4 linked regions of the Homo sapiens genome follow. The protein of the gene in region 3 interacts with the protein of the main gene of each other region in a pairwise test. Each region holds a gene or a part of one and is shown on either strand. Other genes may lie near its edges.

The links. Proteins that work in one complex are often made in the same cells at the same time.
Region 1: the proteins of SLC30A8 (region 3) and PTPN9 interact in binary tests that used the Homo sapiens proteins (3 or more experiments, as listed by UniProt).
Region 2: the proteins of SLC30A8 (region 3) and BSND interact in binary tests that used the Homo sapiens proteins (3 or more experiments, as listed by UniProt).
Region 4: the proteins of SLC30A8 (region 3) and TMEM50A interact in binary tests that used the Homo sapiens proteins (3 or more experiments, as listed by UniProt).

What each region holds. Positions count from the first base shown.
Region 1 is NC_000015.10:75,519,688-75,523,815, forward strand, and holds part of PTPN9 (tyrosine-protein phosphatase non-receptor type 9), read right to left. Parts: intron 3,559-4,128; coding exon 3,434-3,558; intron 1-3,433. UniProt on the Homo sapiens protein: Protein-tyrosine phosphatase that could participate in the transfer of hydrophobic ligands or in functions of the Golgi apparatus.
Region 2 is NC_000001.11:54,997,558-55,002,360, forward strand, and holds the start of BSND (barttin), read left to right. Parts: upstream 1-1,375; 5' UTR 1,376-1,629; coding exon 1,630-1,806; intron 1,807-4,803.
Region 3 is NC_000008.11:117,151,245-117,156,002, reverse strand, and holds part of SLC30A8 (proton-coupled zinc antiporter SLC30A8), read right to left. Parts: intron 3,060-4,758; coding exon 2,913-3,059; intron 1-2,912. UniProt on the Homo sapiens protein: Proton-coupled zinc ion antiporter mediating the entry of zinc into the lumen of pancreatic beta cell secretory granules, thereby regulating insulin secretion.
Region 4 is NC_000001.11:25,348,334-25,352,461, forward strand, and holds part of TMEM50A (transmembrane protein 50A), read left to right. Parts: intron 1-3,292; coding exon 3,293-3,360; intron 3,361-4,128.

The sequences.
Region 1 (4,128 bases), on a different chromosome or scaffold from region 3:
TCTCAAACTCCTGACCTCAAGTGATCTGCCCCCCTCGGCCTCCCAAAGTGCTGGGATTACAGGTGTGAGTCACTGCGCCCTGCCCTTGACTCCTTTTTCACAACCCCAGAGAGACTATGATCCACAAAGGTCCAAGATGCTGTTAAAATGTGTGGCACAGGACAGGTCCAGTGACTCACACCTGTAATCTCAGCACTTTGGGAGACTGAGATGTGAAGACTGCTTGAGGCCAGAAGTTCGAGACCAGCCTGGTCAACAGAGTGAAACTCCGCCTCTACAAAAAAATTTTAAAATTGGACGGGTTTATTAGTACGTGCCTGTGGTCCCAGCTCCTTGGGAGACAGAGGCAGGAGGATCATTTGAGCCCAGGAGTTGAGGCTGCTGTGAGTTATGATGATGCAACTGCACTTCAGCCCGAGCAAAAGTGAGACCCTGTCTCTTAAATAAAAAGAAACAAAGAAAATGTGTGGCACAATTATTGAATAGGCTATCCAGATCTAGATACTTTCTATTTCTCCATGAGCTCCTCAAGGGTCAAATTCAAATTATGGGCTTTCCCCTCATGACTCCAGGTTGTGGCAGGGGACTAAAACAAAAACAAGTCAGTGAGGGGGCAAAGAGAATTTAAAAAAAAAGAAGCTTGGATGCATAATGAATGATCCAGGTTCTATATTCCCAGATCAAAGTGCTCATCCTGTGAAGGCACATAAAACATGAATGCAGTAAGATTTTCACACTTTAGGGTATAGAATAGATAGATAGATAGATAGATAGATAGATAGATAGATAGATAGATGTGTGTGTGTTTATATATGTGTGTATATATATACATATACTTTTTTTTTTTTGAGACAGAGTTCGCTTTTGTTGCCCAGGCTGAAGTGCAATAGTGCGATCTCTGCTCACTGCAACCTCCGCCCAAGTTCAAGTGATTCTCCTGCCTCAGCCTCTCGAGTAGCTAGGATTACAGGCACCCACCACCACGCCTGGCTAATTTTTTGTATTTTTACTAGAGACGGGGTTTCACCATGTTGGCCAGGCTGGTCTCAAACTCCCGACCTCAGGAGATCCACCCCCTTGGACTCCCAAAGTGCTGGGACTACACGCGTGAGCCACCAGAATATATATATTTTTAAGACAGCATTTTACTCTGTTGCCCATGCTGTAGTGCAGTGGCACAATCATGGCGCACTGTAGCCTCGACCTCCCAGGGCTCAGATGATCCTCCCAGGGCTCAGGTGATCCTCCCAGGGCTCAGGTGATCCTCCCAGTTCAGCCTTCCGTGAGTGTCTGGGACTACAGGCAAATACCACCATGCCTGGCTGCCTAATTTTTAAACTTTTTGTAGAGACGAGGCCTTGCTATGTTGCCCAGGCTGGTCTCGAACTTCTGGGCTCAAGCGATCCTCTCACCTGGCCTCCCAAAGTGTTGGGATTACAGGCATGAGCCACTGCACCCAGTTTAAGATTTACAATGGGCCGGGCACGGTGGCTCACGCCTGTAATCCCAACACTTTGGGAGGCTGAGGTGGGTGGATCACGAGCTCAGGTGATCGAGACCATCCTGGCTAACAAGGTGAAACCCCATCTCTACTAAAAATACAAAAAAAAAAAAAAAAAACGGGCGTGGTGGCAGGCGCCTGTAGTCCCAGCTACTCGGGAGGCTGAGGCAGGAGAATGGCACGAACCCGGGAGTCGGAGCTTGCAGCGAGCTGAGATAGCGCCACTGCACTCCAGCCTGGGGGACAGACCGAGACTCCGTCTCAAAGGAAAAAAAAAATAAAAAAAATATTTTTTTAATTCTTGAGCTACATGTTACAGAAAACACCAAGAAGTTTAAAATACAGTCCCTGACATTGGTTTTAAAAAAACGGAGAAGCCAGATGCAATGGCTTATGCTTGTAATCCCAGCATTTTGGGAGGCCGAGATGGGAGGATTGCTTAAGTCCAGGAGTTCAAGACTGCAGTGAGCTACAATCATGCTACTGCACTCCAGCCTGGGTGACAAACCAAGCCCTAGTCTCAAAAAACAAAAAAGAAAGAAACTGAGGATAGGAGATCCATGAGGGGCTACCAATGAAACAAGACTGTTACAGATCACTTTGAAGAAGACGGATGATGGATATGTGGATGTTCACGATACCATTCTCTCTCAACCTACAGAGATTCGGATGTTAAAAAGAAAGTTTCCTGCCCTCAAGAAGCGAGTGGATTCATCATGTTGCCCAGGGCTGGTCTCAAACTCCCGGGCTCAGACAATCTGCCCATCTCAGCCAACCAAAGTGCTAGGATTACAGGCATGAATCAATGCGCCTGGCCTCAATATAGCACTTCTAATCCGGAGGACCAGCCAAAGATGTCGAGAGCAGTAAGAAACTGTAAATTACAAGCACCAGGGAAAAAGGAATAGCAGAACAACAGCATGGGAGGACAGAAATAACTCTGCCCAAGAGTGAAGAAACCAGGATCTTAGAACCAGCTGGACTAACATATGATGACTGTAAAAAACTTCTTGGGGCTTGAGTTTAATTGTCAATTGAATTGTAACAATACCAATTACCTTAGCAGGAAGAGAGTGATGACCTGAGCTGGTTCTTTATGCTTATGCACCTCTTTTTATTAAGGATGGTTTTTGCTTAACTTTATACTTCTGGGCTTCTCCCTGAATGTTTTTTTGTTGTTGTTGTTTGTTTTGTGTGGGCTTTTTTGTGGGGTTTTTTTTGAGACAGGTCTTGCTGTGTCACCCAGGCTGGAATGCAGTGGCGTGATCATGGCTCACTACAGCTTCACCATTCTGGGCTCAAGTGATCCTCCCACCTCAGCAACCTCCCCCACCTCCCCCAAGAAGCTGGGACTAAAGGTGCACGCTACCACACCCAGCTAATTTTTTGTATTTTTTATCAGAGACAGGGTTTCACCATGTTGTCCAGGCTGGTCTCAACTCCTGGCTTCAAGCAATCCACCTGCTTCAGCCTCCCAAAGTGCTGGGATTACAGGTGTGAGCCACTGCACCCAGCCCTCCCCTGAATGTTGAGTCTCAAAATCCTCTGAACTAAACGGCATTATTCCTGTTATGCAGACAAAGAAACTGAGGCCTTAGAGGTTCTGATATGAGCAAAAAGAACCAGCACAGGTCATCTCCCCCTCATTCTTTTCCAATAAGTAGTTTTCCATACACTGAAGATTGCCGATAATTGACTTTCTCAGCTTCTGTTTTCCTGACATAGAGCCAAGGTGGTAAAGAGAACGCCCACCATCTTGATAGTGCCTGCAAACATGCCGAGTTCTAAAGGACATGGATTGTTTTCTATTCATAGCATTGCCCAGGGCACATCCTAGGAGAATGGCGAAGGCACTGCTGAATTTAATCAAGTAAAAAACTGTCACTTTCCTACCTGCATGTAGAATACCTAAAAAATAATCTCAATGCTTACCTATCCACAGCTCTGTCTAGCAAGTAAAACAGAGCCTGAAGTACCACATGTTGGACTGACTTGTGGGGATGATGCAACCTGGCAGTAAAGAGGGCAATGGAGGCTCCTGTTGGGTCCCGAACATTCTAAAGCAAATAAAACAAGAAACATTAAAAAAATCAAATAGAAAATCACAGCAATTACTAAGACTTATATACTGGATAAGGGTTTGATACATGTAGAAAACAGATGCTAACAATAATTCCCTGACTTCACCAATTGCTGTCCAAAGGGAAGAGTGTTAATATCATCCTTTGTCTGATTCTCCCAGGACTCCCTGGACCATATTTCTGTGGTAAGAAAAAAAAAACACATTCTCTTTGCTCTTCAACTACAGACAGATCAAAGGATGGCTGTGCACTGGCTTCCTAGCTAACTTCCCTGGCAGAATGGCAAAAGAAACAAGCAGCAGGAGAGAACCAGGGAACAGGACCATGATTTCCACCCTCTGCCTTAAAAGTGCCATTGTATGTTTACTTGAAAGGCTGAGGTCTCAACTAAGTGGAGAGCTTGCGTTAAATATGGAAGCATGGGTGTCTGACACATTGCATATCTCTCCCAAAGACCATGACTAACCTTAATGGACCAACTGAAGAAACTTTTCTAAGTCTACTGTACAACTGATTTTCCATAATTCAATTATTCAATTATCATTA
Region 2 (4,803 bases), on a different chromosome or scaffold from region 3:
GAACCAGACCTGGACATGACCTGATAACTCAGCCCTTTCCTGCCCCTCAGCCATCGCTCAGCCAGGGCCCCTGAGCTCCCTCCAGGACCTCCTCTGCGAACTGTCAAGTGCACCTGGACTCTGAGGGCTGGCGATGGTGGGTGTGAGGAAGGAGAAACCCCTGTTGGAAAAAGGGCCTATGAGAAGGACGTCTAGTTAGAGGGGCAGCTGTGAGCACAGGTGTGGGGTTAGGGAACAAGGGCAGCCCTGCTGGCAGGAGGGGAGAAGGTGATGACCGCCAACAGGAAATCCCCAAGCCCAGCAAGTCAGGGAGCCCATTGAAAGCCTTTTATCCTGCATCGGCGATTTAACCCCATGTAAACGCCAAGTGAACATTCTCTTGTAGAGACCGATGGTCCTCATTTTCCTGTAATCCTGTAAAGGAATCTGATTTCTTCCATCAGCCTGTCCCTAGGACTAAAATGCCTCATTAGTGTTATTCTTAGGAAGGCATCTTCCTAGATCAGGCTGCAAGGAAATGGAGGAAGTGACTGTCAGTCACTCACACCCTGCAGGGGCACTAATTCCGAGAGCCTTAGGGGTGGGTGGGGAGCAGTTCATTGAAAGCCCAACTGGGTGGTGCATAGCGTGTGAATGTGAAGGGGATGGAGGAACCCAAGGAGGCCAGGCCTGGAGACAGCACCAAATCTGGGAGGTACATTATTATTCCCATTTTACAGAGGAGGAAACTGAGGTAACCTGATCATGACCACACTGCCCCACAGTAGAGGAGCCAGAATCCAAACCCAGGCAGCCTGCCTTGCCACCAGAGCCACGCTTTTCACCCTCAAGCTGCAGTTAAGAAGTATCACGCCGTGGCTAGGCCCACGGCCTCTGGCTTCACATCCCACTAGCTCTGCCATCTTTAGCTGTGTGACCTTGGGCAAGTTACTTGTCTGTGCCCGAGGGTCCTCTGTAAAGTGGGGATAGTAGTAGCTGCTTCACTGGGTTCCCTTCAATGAGTTAATAGCTGTAACATGTTTAGAATGGTGCCCTGCACATAGTCACCAGCCAGTACATATGGGCCATTATTCCTGAACCCTGGATAGGCACATGTCCTTGAAGAGTGTAGAATTCTTCAGGATTCTGAAATGCCAGCCTGTGGGATCCTGGAATCCTCCAATAGCATTCTAACAGCTCTCAGCTGCAGAACTGTACCCTGTTTTCTAGAGCTGGAAGGTGTGAGGCTGCCTGTCCACCCAGCTCAACCCCACAGTAGGCAAATGAGGTGATGTCAAAGCCTTGGCTGGGGCCCAGCCCCGGTAACCTCCCACTCTCCCTCCCCTGTGTGCTCCCTCGCTCAGATTCACACACACACTCCAGGCCAGCCGGGCCCAGAGGGAAGGTGAGAGGGCAAGGAGTAAAGGTGGCTGGGTGTGGGTCCGTTGAAGCGAGCCGCCTCCAGCCCTGTTGAACTGGTGGGCCCAGGGACTGGAGCGGGATTGAAAGGGATCTTGCTCTCCCTTGAAGCCTTGAGTTGCAGCGATTTCAGTGTCTTCTCTCCCTGTGTAAGCCTGTCTCGGTGTTTAGGCTGAACTACAGCCACCCCCTCTCCCGGGGGTGTGCAGGCCAGGGACTGGCCAGGCAGCCATGGCTGACGAGAAGACCTTCCGGATCGGCTTCATTGTGCTGGGGCTTTTCCTGCTGGCCCTCGGTACGTTCCTCATGAGCCATGATCGGCCCCAGGTCTACGGCACCTTCTATGCCATGGGCAGCGTCATGGTGATCGGGGGCATCATCTGGAGCATGTGCCAGTGCTACCCCAAGGTAGGTGGTAGTGGGGCTGGGTGGGGCCAGGTCAGCTGGGGCCAGGAGGGCTGGACACTGTGCCTGTATGCCATGCCTCACCCCCTATCCTTTAGTTGTCTTTTCATTCTTCTCATTTTGACTCGGTCTTCTCTCTGCTCTCCTGAGCGTCTGTCCCATCCATCCATCCATCCATCCATCCATCCATCCATCCATCCCTTAGCCTAAGGGTTGATCAGAAGGCCCCTGGATCTGGAGCCCTGAGCCGGAAGCTATGGTATAGACACAGCAAACACAACACACCATGTGCTTGAAACAAAAGCTAATGAGCGCTGACCCCCTGCCAGGCACTCCTGCGTTCAGGGTGCAGTTCAGCCCTCATCCTAAGCCTTTTGGTGCTTTCTGTAGTTCCACCTTCTGAGCCTTTCTGAGGTCCAGAAAGAGAGGCTGCACAGCTAACGAGCAAGGTTTGGAGCTCAGATGCGTGTGACTTACACGTCACCCTTCACCTTGGGTCTTCTACCTCTGGGTCCCAGAGCGACTGAGAGCTCCAGGGTAGGTCAGGTCTAACCTTGGTGGCATGCACTGGGCAGTATCCTTTAGAGTCTTCATGTATTCTCAGCCTTATGTGTAATTTAGTGATGGGAAGAGCACTGGTTTGGGAGTCCTGAGTTCTAGTTCAAGTCCTGTTCCAAACTCTCTATGACCTTTGTCTTTCTGAGCCTCATTTTTTTCATCTGCAAATGAGATCCCTGCCCCTATTTTCCACAGAGCTTCACAGGGTCATTATAAAGATCAGAGAAGAGATAAGATATAGGAATATTTTGTAAACTGTAAGGTGTTATTTATAGATGAAGGGCTACCACTGTTACCCATACTGATCCTCCCAACAGCTCTGTGGAATGGAAATGCCAGGAGTTGCGAATCTTCAATGCCTAGAGAGGCTGGGTGACTTCCAAGGTCACACAGCTGGTCAGGTACAGACCCAGGGAGAAAAGGAGGGAAATAGGGACTCTAACTTGGGCTCTGTCTCTTACTGCCTGGGAGACTTTGCTCAAGCCCCTTTCCTCTCTGAGCCTCAGTTTCCTCATTTGTACACTGTGTGAGTTAGGAGGGGGGGGTGGGAAAGGGGGTATATCTGGGGGCCCTGCTGGACCTAATATCTAGGGCTCCAGGTCCAGGCAGTCCTCAGCAACCCCCACACCTCCTCTCCTCCCACCTGGGTGGCTGTGCTCAGGGTTTCAGGGAAGAAGGGGGATGGCTCCCTGGGGCCTGGGCCGGCTCTCCCCAGCCCTGCCCCCTCCACGGGCCAACCCTGGGCTGTCATTCTGTTCAGTGCTGGAGCGGTCTGGGCTGGTTTGTAGTCATTTAGCAGGCAGTTTACAGTCAACTTGCCTCTGTCTGTGCAATTCCTTGAGCAGAGGTCACTGGGAGAAGTCCTTGGGGCCAAAGCCACTCATGTCACCACTGCTATTATAATCCTTCTCCCAGTGAGGAGGCTGGACCCTGGGGGACAGCAGAGGGATGGCAGAGGTGTGGAGAGGAGCATCCTTCCTGCCCCCGCTCTTAAATAGAGCTGGCTCTGGGATGGTTGGTAGGCTGATGGGAGTGACGGTAGAGGGGAGGGGAGGGGAGGAGGGAATATTGCTGGGTATTAATGAGTAACTGTTGATAGATTCATGGGTTCACGTGCTGTGGAGGCAGCGTGGTGGGCTGAAAATGGCACATGTTGTGGCAACCTCCAGGCCCAGATTCAAATCCCTGCTCCTTCATGTCCCACTTCTGTGACCTTGGCAGAAAGAGTCCCTCCCCCTCAGCTCTGAGCCTTGTACGGCTGATTGGGAGAACACAGTGGGATCGTGTGTGTGTGTGTGTGTGTGTGTGTGTGTGTGTGTGTGTGTGTTGGGGGAGACCTGGCATCACACCTGCCATGGAACATATGTGAAGGCATTGTTCTTAGGATTGAGGATTGGTATTTGCGGCACTGGGTGGGCCTCTGCATGAGTGCAGGTGTGTGTGAGTGTGTGTTTCAGAGATGCAGGCTGGTAGAGCCAGCACAAATTGACTCCAATAAGGGAAGGGAGGAAAGCACCTTATAAACCAGGGAGACACTCTAGAGGCGAAGCTCCCTGGATCCTGCTTGGTCTCATTGGTGCCTGGGCCAACGCTGCCTGCAGTGCTCCTGCCTGTCCTCCCCTCAGCCTCCTCCCCGTGGCTCTCTGTGCCAGACCTATGGAAAGTTTTGATAAATGGGGAGATATAAATATAAGGGAATAGAATTAGCTAATTAGGATATAGGGGTGAGGGGTAGCCAATACCAACATGCATTAAGCTGTCCATGTCTTTTAGGGGCTAGAGGTCTAGTGGGAGAGGCTATTTGCTGCCTGATGGGGAGGAAACAGGCTTCACAGAGAAGGTGAGCTGGGCTTTGTAGGTGAGATAAGAGTTCACCAAGCAGAGAAGATGGGGAAAGACATTCCAGGCAGAAGAGTAGCATGATCAAAGCAATGTGGTAAAAGAATAAGGCAAGTGGGCCATTGTGGCTACGAGAGGCAGAGGGGAGGAAGGTAAAGGTAGCGAGGGAGTGGGGCTCAACTCTTCAGGGCCTGGGATGCCATGGTAAGGAATTTGGAGCTTGTCCTTTAGTTAATGGGACACGACCAGCTTTGCAGTTTGAGAAAGACATCCAGAAGAAGGAAGGTCTGGGGGCAGCCATACCAGTGGGGAGGCTTCTTCTCTGGTCTTGGTGAGAGCTGACAGTCATCTGGAATAATGCAGAATTCAAACACAAAGCTGTAGGAACTAAGGTGACATTTACAGTTCACTTCACATAGAGTACCCGTTGTGGCTAGGCATAGCACCAGCACTTCCACCCAGGTTATCTTATTGAATTTCTGAAGTAGACCTGGTCAGATTTGGTGGTCAGCTGGGCCTCAGGCATGAGAGAGGAGAAGGGATCAGGGCAAATCTAGTGGATGGGACAGTTGGAGGTGCTGAGCCCATTAGTGAAGATGGGGC
Region 3 (4,758 bases):
TAGGGTCACTGCAGATTAAGTTAGTTAAGATGAGGTCACATTGGAGTAGGATGGGCCCAATATGGCTGGTGTCCTTGTTTAAAGTGGAAACCTGGACATAGACATGCAAATTGGGAAAATGCCATGTAAACATGAAAGCAGAGCTCTATGAGCTAAGGAATGACAAAGTTTCCCAGAAAACCACCAGAAGCTAAGAGAGAGGCCTGGAACTGACTTCCCCTCACAGACCTCAGAAGGAACCAACCCCACTGACGCCCGATTGCAGACTTCTGTTTCTCATAACTGTGAGACAATAAATGTCTGTTGTTTAAACAGAAATGTATTTAAAACCAAGTAATGTAATATATTATTACCCAGTGTATGGCAATTATTTCCCCGACCTCATTCATAGACAACCTTCATAATTTGTTATGAAAATTAATAATGTACCCCCCAAAATACTGTACCCAATTTGTAGTACATTATTAAGGCAGCCCTAGGAACCTAATATAACATATAGCAAACACTCAAGAAATTGTTATTTTATTAGTCTACTCAGGCTACTTACGACTCCCCTTTGCAGAAGTTTATGAGGACCAAGCCCAAGAATTTCTGGTTAGCCGGAAATGGAGGTTGAGTCTGTGGATGTCAGGTAGTGTGCTTCCTATCCATGAAAATCCAAAACAGGGTATGAAAGTGGAGTGTGTCTAACTCAAAACCCATGATTAGGAAGCACAGTGGGAAAAGAGCTGGCGAGGTAAAGCTCAATACCAAGAGCAAGAGTCAGGAGTCAGATCTTAAGACAAAACAAAGAGTCAGAAATCCAAAAGTAACTAGTTAGAACAGGAGGCACATGAGGATCATTGGTAAATGTTACAATGATTGCTTAAAAAAGAAATAAGTTAGCTTAGCTGGGCTCATTGGGCTGGCCAGATTATGGGTGTGTTGCGTATGAATGTGTTGGACTCACCTCTGTATCTATAGAGGTGCTGTTTAATATGGTAGCCACCAATCATGCATGGCTGCTTAAAATGAAATTAAGTAAATTTTAAAATCTGGTTCTTCAGTAGCACTAGCTGCATTTAAAGTGCTCAATAGCTACATTTTACTGTATATTACAGAATATTGCCCTCGCAGCAGAGAGTTCTATTAATAGCTCAGGGTCTTCCATGGCCACGATGCCAAAGTACAAGCAGAGATCTAAATTCTGAGTTCACCCTACATTTTCAAATCATCCTAGGTTTACAAAACTGCTTTGACAAATGGTATCAGAAAGGGTCAAGTACATGTAAAACTTTACACAGACAAATAATGGGTGCTTAGCTACAGGTCCATGTTTTCCAAGTGTAGCGCTGTTCAAGCACCAGCAAAAACATTCTCAGATCACGTTGTCACAAACTCTCTTTACTGCTGTTTATTGCCTCATCTCCTGAATGTTAAAGGGAAGCAAGTCAAAACACCTGCGATGATCAAGTGTTTGTTTAGTATGAAATTAGGACTTCCTGCCATTCTAAACTTGAAAAGCCGCAGTCCACAGTTATCAGTCTATAAGCTGTGATATGTGTCTAGCAGCCCTTTCAGTGAAGGCTGGCCACCCTTGCTCAGCTCTCCAATTTCCTCTACATGGATGTTCTCAACCAGTGTGAAAATGTGGAATTGTGGCTATTTGTTCACATGATTTGCACAAAATATTCAGCCGGAACCTCCTCCAGCTGATAGAAGGAATAACACAGAGGAGAAGAATTGAAGTTGCAGAGTGTGGGGGTTGTGGGGGTGGGTTAGGGAGGGACTGTAAAAATGAGTCAAAGTAAAAACCCTTATCAATACCTAGATGATGGGTTGATAGGTGCAGCAAACCATGACGGCACACGTTGACCTATGTAACAAACCTACACATCCTGCACATGTACCCCAGAACTTATTAAAATTAAAATTAAAATTTAAAAAAGCATACAGTCAAATGTGTTATATACCAAATTTAGAGACCTCCAAGTTGTTTATGCTACTTGGTTAAGTTATTTATGTCTGTTTTAGTGCATACATGTTATTTGAAATCCCTATAATTATGAGTTGAGAAGGCTGGAATTTGCACTAGACTTCTTCTCTCCCTTTCTTAATCAGAGTGGATTCATTTGTCTATTGTGAAATTATTTAAGGAAGCACACGTGAACCACATTTAATAAATGGCAGGCAAGGCTCAGGCACATGTTTCAGCACGTGTTTGCTTTCCTCCTGTTACAACAGTCAACTGAGCAATAAAGAATGAATACACACACACACACACACACACACACACACACCCCTTATCATGACCTTGGCTACTGCCTATACAAGAGTAAGCAGTTATTCAGTGAAGGAACCAGCGCAAGAAAGGAGAAAAAGTAAACTTTCATCTTCTCCTCTTCCTTCTCCTCCTCCTTTTTTGCATTATTGTTGATTGAGCGAGCAAGATATTCAATTGGACCAATGGCTGAATGGCTAAATGCTGTGTGTGAGCAGGAAAGCCTATATTCTATTCCTGAATCCTCTATAAGAAGTTCTTCAATCTCTATAACTCTCTTGGGTGCTCTGTGCCTCATTTTGCAATATGGCAGAAGCTTTACTCCTATCCTCTCTTCCAGGGATGCAGAGTAATTTAATGAATTGCGTTATGTCTGTCACCATACACAGAGTCCCTGAGGCTGGGGCAGTTGCTGAAGTGATACACGTGTTCCTGTTGTCCCAGAGGACTAGAGATAGCACCATTAATCTGTCTGTTATCTGAATTAATATTGAAAACACACATTCCCACATACACATTTGTTTTATCCTGTGCATCAGAAATGTGTCTCTAAGGACTTTCCAACAAGGCTTTGCTTCGTGTCTTCCACTTTTACCCTTGGTTTGACTTTGCAGCACCAGCCTGCTGTTATTGCTCACTCTATGAACCGTACCTGCTCGGTGCCATCCAAATGTCAGCCGCTTAGAGGGAGGCTTCGATGACAACCACAGGGAGAAGAGACTGAGCAGGAAACTGGTCAGGTCAATTAAGAGGTGGGCAGCATCTGTGACAACAGCAAGACTCCCAGCAATGTGCCCACCTAGAGAATGCAAAATAGTACACTGTGTTAAGGTCCCAGAATGCAGCTAGATTCACAGACATGCTAACCATCATGGGTGAAAATGCCACAGACTCACAAAACTTTAGAGGAAAAAGAGATCTTAAAGTTGATTTAATTCACCCCTTCTGCGACTCAGAGAGGGGATATGATTTGAACATGTAGAAATCAATTTCAAAGGAGAAGCCATTCCTGGGGTAGAAAAGACATAGAGACTAGAAAGTGTGGGGCAGGCACATCTGGAGAACACCTTAATTAGACTGGGTATAAGGATTCAAAAGAGGAGAATACAAGAGAATCAGGCTGAAGCAGTGCGGGTCAGATTCAAAGAGTCTCATAATCCAGACTGAGGACATGGACTTTTGTTTATAAACTAGATGTTGCGATCTGGCCCACAGATGTGTTTTTATTTGACTTATAATTTAATCAGCATCTTTACCCTTTCCTTTTTCTCTATTAATATATATTATCCACCTGAGCTTGAAATCCCTGTAAGAAATAACAGGGAGCAGAAAGGAGAAAGGGCAGGTACCTTCCAATGGGCGTCCTCAGTGCTACAATCCAATAAAGCATAGGGATGCAATGTAAGCCATGAGAGTCCTGCCTGGCTTTTCCCTTTATTTGATGTGCTCCCTCTACTTCCCTCTAATCCTCCTTTGAGAAAAGACCTCCAGCCTCCAAAATAGAAGTTAAAGAAAAACCTTGCCCTTTCCTTCCCAGACATGGTTTGTTGTTTGAGAGCAATAACCTTTATTGCTCTTACTACATCTTCCCAGCAAAGGGCTTTTGCTGACTGATTAGTTCTCCCTACAGCTGTTTATTGCCTTGTGTACTACAAAATAGCAGAGACTGTCAGCCATCAGCCCCGCCATCATCAGACTCACCTTGTCTCGCCTAATTTTTAAAAATTACATAGATGGCTCATAATTGCAATAATCCCCACAGGCCATTGGCTCTAGCCGTAGTTAATAACTGGTTTGTCAAGGTTTAATGGGCTGAAGCAAAGTAATCTTCAAGCTTGTTACTGAACAGTCACTGCAAAAATCAGAATGATTCATTACCCAAAAAGCAACATTTTGCTAACAAATCAGCTGTCCTTCCAATTATCCTCTAATGTTGCTCTATCTGCCAAACTTGGTCCTGATGATAAAACTGTGTTAATAAGGCATTATTTCTTGCCCAGAGAATAACTCCATGCAGATAAGCAGTACGCTGCAATCACAGCAATGAGTGATGACGATTCTATGTGCTGGGCTGAAATATAGTCTAAATCAAGGAAATGAAGTCAGTTTTATAAACTCTCTTCAACAGTCTCAGCTGAGGCAGGAGGCACCTGAGAAAGAAAAAGGGCTTGCTTTGGAATAAGCATGTTACTATGGAGGCTTGGAAACTGAGAACCATTTTGCAACCTTCAGAGCTACTTATAAGAGCCATCCAGAAAACTGCGGGCAGTCACTGATGCATAGAGCAAACTGCTTGCAAGAGGTAGTTTGTGACTGATCTTGCATTTGCTTCTGAAAGCATGGAGTATTACTGACAATTAATTCAATTATCCAGCCAATATTTATTGAGCCCTTACTGTGCATGGTACCAGGGATTGGGTATACAAAGATAAACAAATAACAGCCTCTCTTCAGTGATCTCCTTGTTTAACACTCACTGTACCAGAGACAAGTTAATG
Region 4 (4,128 bases), on a different chromosome or scaffold from region 3:
TGTGGCTTTAAAAATATTAATAAATGTTCTGTGTATTACTCTGTATTTTTTAATTTTAAAAATGTAGGGTAGGCCGGGCACGGTGGCTCACGCCTGTAATCCCAGCACTTTGGGAGGCCGAGGTGGAAGGATCTCGAGGTCAGGAGATCGAGACCATCCTGGCCAACATGATGAAGCCCCGTCTCTACTAAAATACAAAAAATTAGCTGGGTGTGGTGACACGCGCCTGTGGTCCTAGCTACTCAGGAGGCTGAGGCAGGGGAATCGCTTGAACCCGGGAGGTGGAGGTTGCAGTGAGCTGAGATTGTGCCACTGCACTCCAGCCTGGCGATAGAGCAAGACTCCATCTCAAAAAAAAAAAAAAGTAGGATATGCCAATAAGCAAAAACGAAGTTGCCTATAATCTCACCAAACTATAACATTTTGACAGATATTCTACCAGTGTTCTCTTCTGTTTTCTCTTTCTCTAACACACATCTATATGTTTTAAAAGTAATATTTAACTCTTCTCCACTTCCTTTCCTCTTCCTGGAAAAATTCAGTCCAAAAACTATTAGGTGAGGTCAAGCATGAGAGGCATCCTCTATAGAAAGACAAGTTGTGGTGGCCCAGAGCAGGCTGCTGGGCTCAGGCAGGGTGGGAAGGGGCAGCTCAGCATGGGCTCAGATCCTGAGCAGGGTGAGGAGGGGATCCATGCAGCGGAGCGTGGGATGGAAGAAGGCAGCCCTACATGGGATGCTGGAGTCTGAGCAGGGTGAAGAGGCTGTCCAGATGGGGCAGGAGAAGCAGTGTGGCAGCTCTGTCCGCTAAGAGTGCCCAGAACAGCTACACCCCAACACCAGGAGCACACCTATAGCCCCCAGTTATGGAGCATCATGTTGACAAATACCAGACGTTTCAGTAAAAAGATTATTTAACTAGTAACTTTTCTATAAATTGGAGAACATACATAAAAATAATCATAGCAGAGAACAAATAGAGATTGTTCATTCCAAAGTGTCCCTAATAGTGAAGACAGGATTGTGGTGGCTCACAGAGGGCTCTGAAGTTTATTCAGATGGCTCAGCAAGGAAAACGAGCTGAGAACCAGTAACCCAAGAACATTTATTTGTGTTTTACTTTTATATATGAAACCTGTTTTTAATGTATCTATTTTATATACAAAATAATTTAGTACTGTACAGAGATCACTGAAAATAATTGAGTATTTTGATCATTCTGAAACTTAGATTTGTATGAATAAATTAAGACATCATATTACTGTGAAAAAAACTAGGATTCCTATATTCACTTTTTTTTTTCATAGATACAAGGTCTTACTATGTTGCCCAGGCTGGTCTCAAAGTCCCGGGCTTAAGCAATCCTCCTACCTTGGCCTTCCAAAGTGCTGAGATTACTGGCACAAGCTACCAGGCCTGACCTAAACACATTTATTGAGCACCTACTATGTGCGAAGCCCCTAGCCTTGTGCTAGGCATTGAGAATGAAAATGAGAAACAAGACAGACAATGGCTCCTGTCCTCATGAAGCTTATATTCTAGTGTTAGACACACACAACTAAATGGGTATATATATCATAGGTATAATGTTTTGTAACTTTAACTTGATGTATTGTGAACGTTTTCCCATGACATTTGGAATGTTTCAAAGGATACTTCTAAAGAAAGCAAGCCTATCTCAATTTAGAGTGGTATGCTATGAAGAGTTAGTAAAACACCTTATGTTTAGAGCCTGTATCAAGGATTTAAAAAACAAGATTTTACCACTTGAATCTCTATTCGATAATATCTTCAGAGCAAAAAGTTATTGTATTGTTTGAAATATAATTATTTCTCCAAACATTTGATATCAGTACAAAATTACTACAAAAAAATTTATTCCAAAGCCAATTTTAAGAAATATTTGGATTATCCAGGGCCCATTTTCTCCCTCTGCCATTGCCATACATGAGTACATGTTATGTCTGATACATACAAATGGAATATCAGATAGAACCAAGCAAAATTATCTTTTTACCTGTTCCAATCTTAGCAAAAGAAAATTTTGAGAATTTTGTTCCCGATTTTTTTTTTAAGAGACGGAGTTTCACTCTTGTCGCCCAGGCTGAATCGCAGTGGCACGATCTGAGCTCACCACAACCTGTTTCCCGGGTTCAAGCAATTCTCCTGCCTCAGCCTCCCAAGTAGCTAGGATTACAGGCATGTGCCACCATGCCCAGCTAATTTTGTATTTTTAGTAGAGACGGGGTTTCTCTGTGTTGGTCAGGCTGGTCTTGAACTCCTCACCTCAGGTGATCCGCCCACCTTGGCCTCCCAAAGTGCTGGGATTATAGGCATGAACCACCACGCCCAGCCTCGTTCCCAAATTTTAACAATCGAGACTCACCTGAAAGACTTGTTAAAACTCAGATTTCTGGGCCCCATGCCCAGAGTGTCTGCTTTGCTAGGTTTGGGTTAGGGCCAAGAGAATTTTCTTGTCAAATAGGTTGCCAAGTAATGCTGATTCCGCTAGCCTGGGGCCCATGACCACTGCTCTAGAGAGTATCTGGCTGGGCGCAGTGGCTCACACCTGTAATCCCAGCACTTTGGGAGGCCGAGGCGGGCGGATCACAAGGTCAGGAGTTCGAGACCATCCTGGCTAACACGGTGAAACCCCATCTCTACTAAAAATACAAAAAAAATTAGCCGGGCATAGGTGGTGCATGCCTGTAGTCCCAACTACTCGGGAGGCTGAGGCAGGAGAATGGCGTAAAACCTGGGAGGCAGAGGTTGCAGTGAGCCGAGATCGTGCCACTACACTATAGCCTGGGAGACAGAGCGAGACTCCGTCTCAAAAAAAAAAAAAAAAAAGGAGTATCTGGTTGAAGAGACCAGTCATATGAACTCTTTACTCAAGAACTGAAGGCTTATGAGCCAGGTGTAGTGGCACTTTGGGAGGTCAAGGCAAGGAGGATCTCTTGAGGCCAGGAGTTTGAGACCAGCCTGAGCAACATAGCAAGACTTTGTCTCTACAAAAATTTTTAAAAATTAGCTGGGTGTGGTGGTGCACACCTGTAATCCCAGCTACTCAGGAGGCTGAAGTGGGAGGATCACTTGAGCCTGGGATTTCAAGGCTGCAGTAAGCCATGGTTGTGCCACTGCATTCTAGCTTGAGCAACAGAGTGAGACCCTGTATCTTTAAAAAAAAAAAAAAGACTTTCAGGCCTAACCTTACATTTGAGAAACTGTAGATTATTGTTTCTGGTAATTGGTGTCATGGACCCTGATTTCTTGGTTTTATTTTATTCATACAGGATTAATGCAGTATCGAATGGACAAGTCCGAGGTGATAGTTACAGTGAAGGTTGTCTGGGTCAAACAGGTAAATAGGTGCAAACAGCATCTTATTATACATGCTTAAATCCTTAAGATGAGTATTTCACATGGAAATACCACTTTTCTATTTGTTTTAATATATCTGTGAGTAACAGCTTATTATTTTGAATCTATTGTTTTATGTTTTGGGCTTGAAATTGGGAATTAATATATAACATTCTATTTGCCGTGCTTTATTGAGTGTAGGCAGTGTTTTTATTAAAATGTATTTATGCAAATTAAAGAGGCCCTATCAGAATTCATTTTAGGCAGTCATGACTCCATTTATTTATAGCAAATCTTCATAAACATGTTAATGTGATTTGAAAGTTGCCTGTCCTCCTCTGTTAACATAATTTTAATGCAACCTTCCTAAGTTCTAGTCACAGTAAATTTGAATTTATTTTGCTGCCTAACTTCCCTGAAAGTGAAATATGGTAGCTTGGAGATTCGTATGTCACTGAATATGAATTTTTTACTGTATGTCTGTGTTACTGTTTGAAAGTACTCTTGGAAGATCTGGGAGCGGCCGGGCACAGTGGCTCACGGCTGTAATCCCAGCACTTTGAGAGGCCAAGGCAGGCAGATCACAAGGTCAGGAGATCGAGATCATCCTGGCTAACACAGTGAAACCCCGTCTCTACTAAAAATACAAAAAATCAGCTGGGCGTGGTGGCGGGTGCCTGTAGTCCCAGCTACTCTGGAGGCTGAGGCAGGGGAATGGCATGAACCTGGGCGGGTGGAGCTTGCAGTGAGCCGAGATTGCGCCACTGCA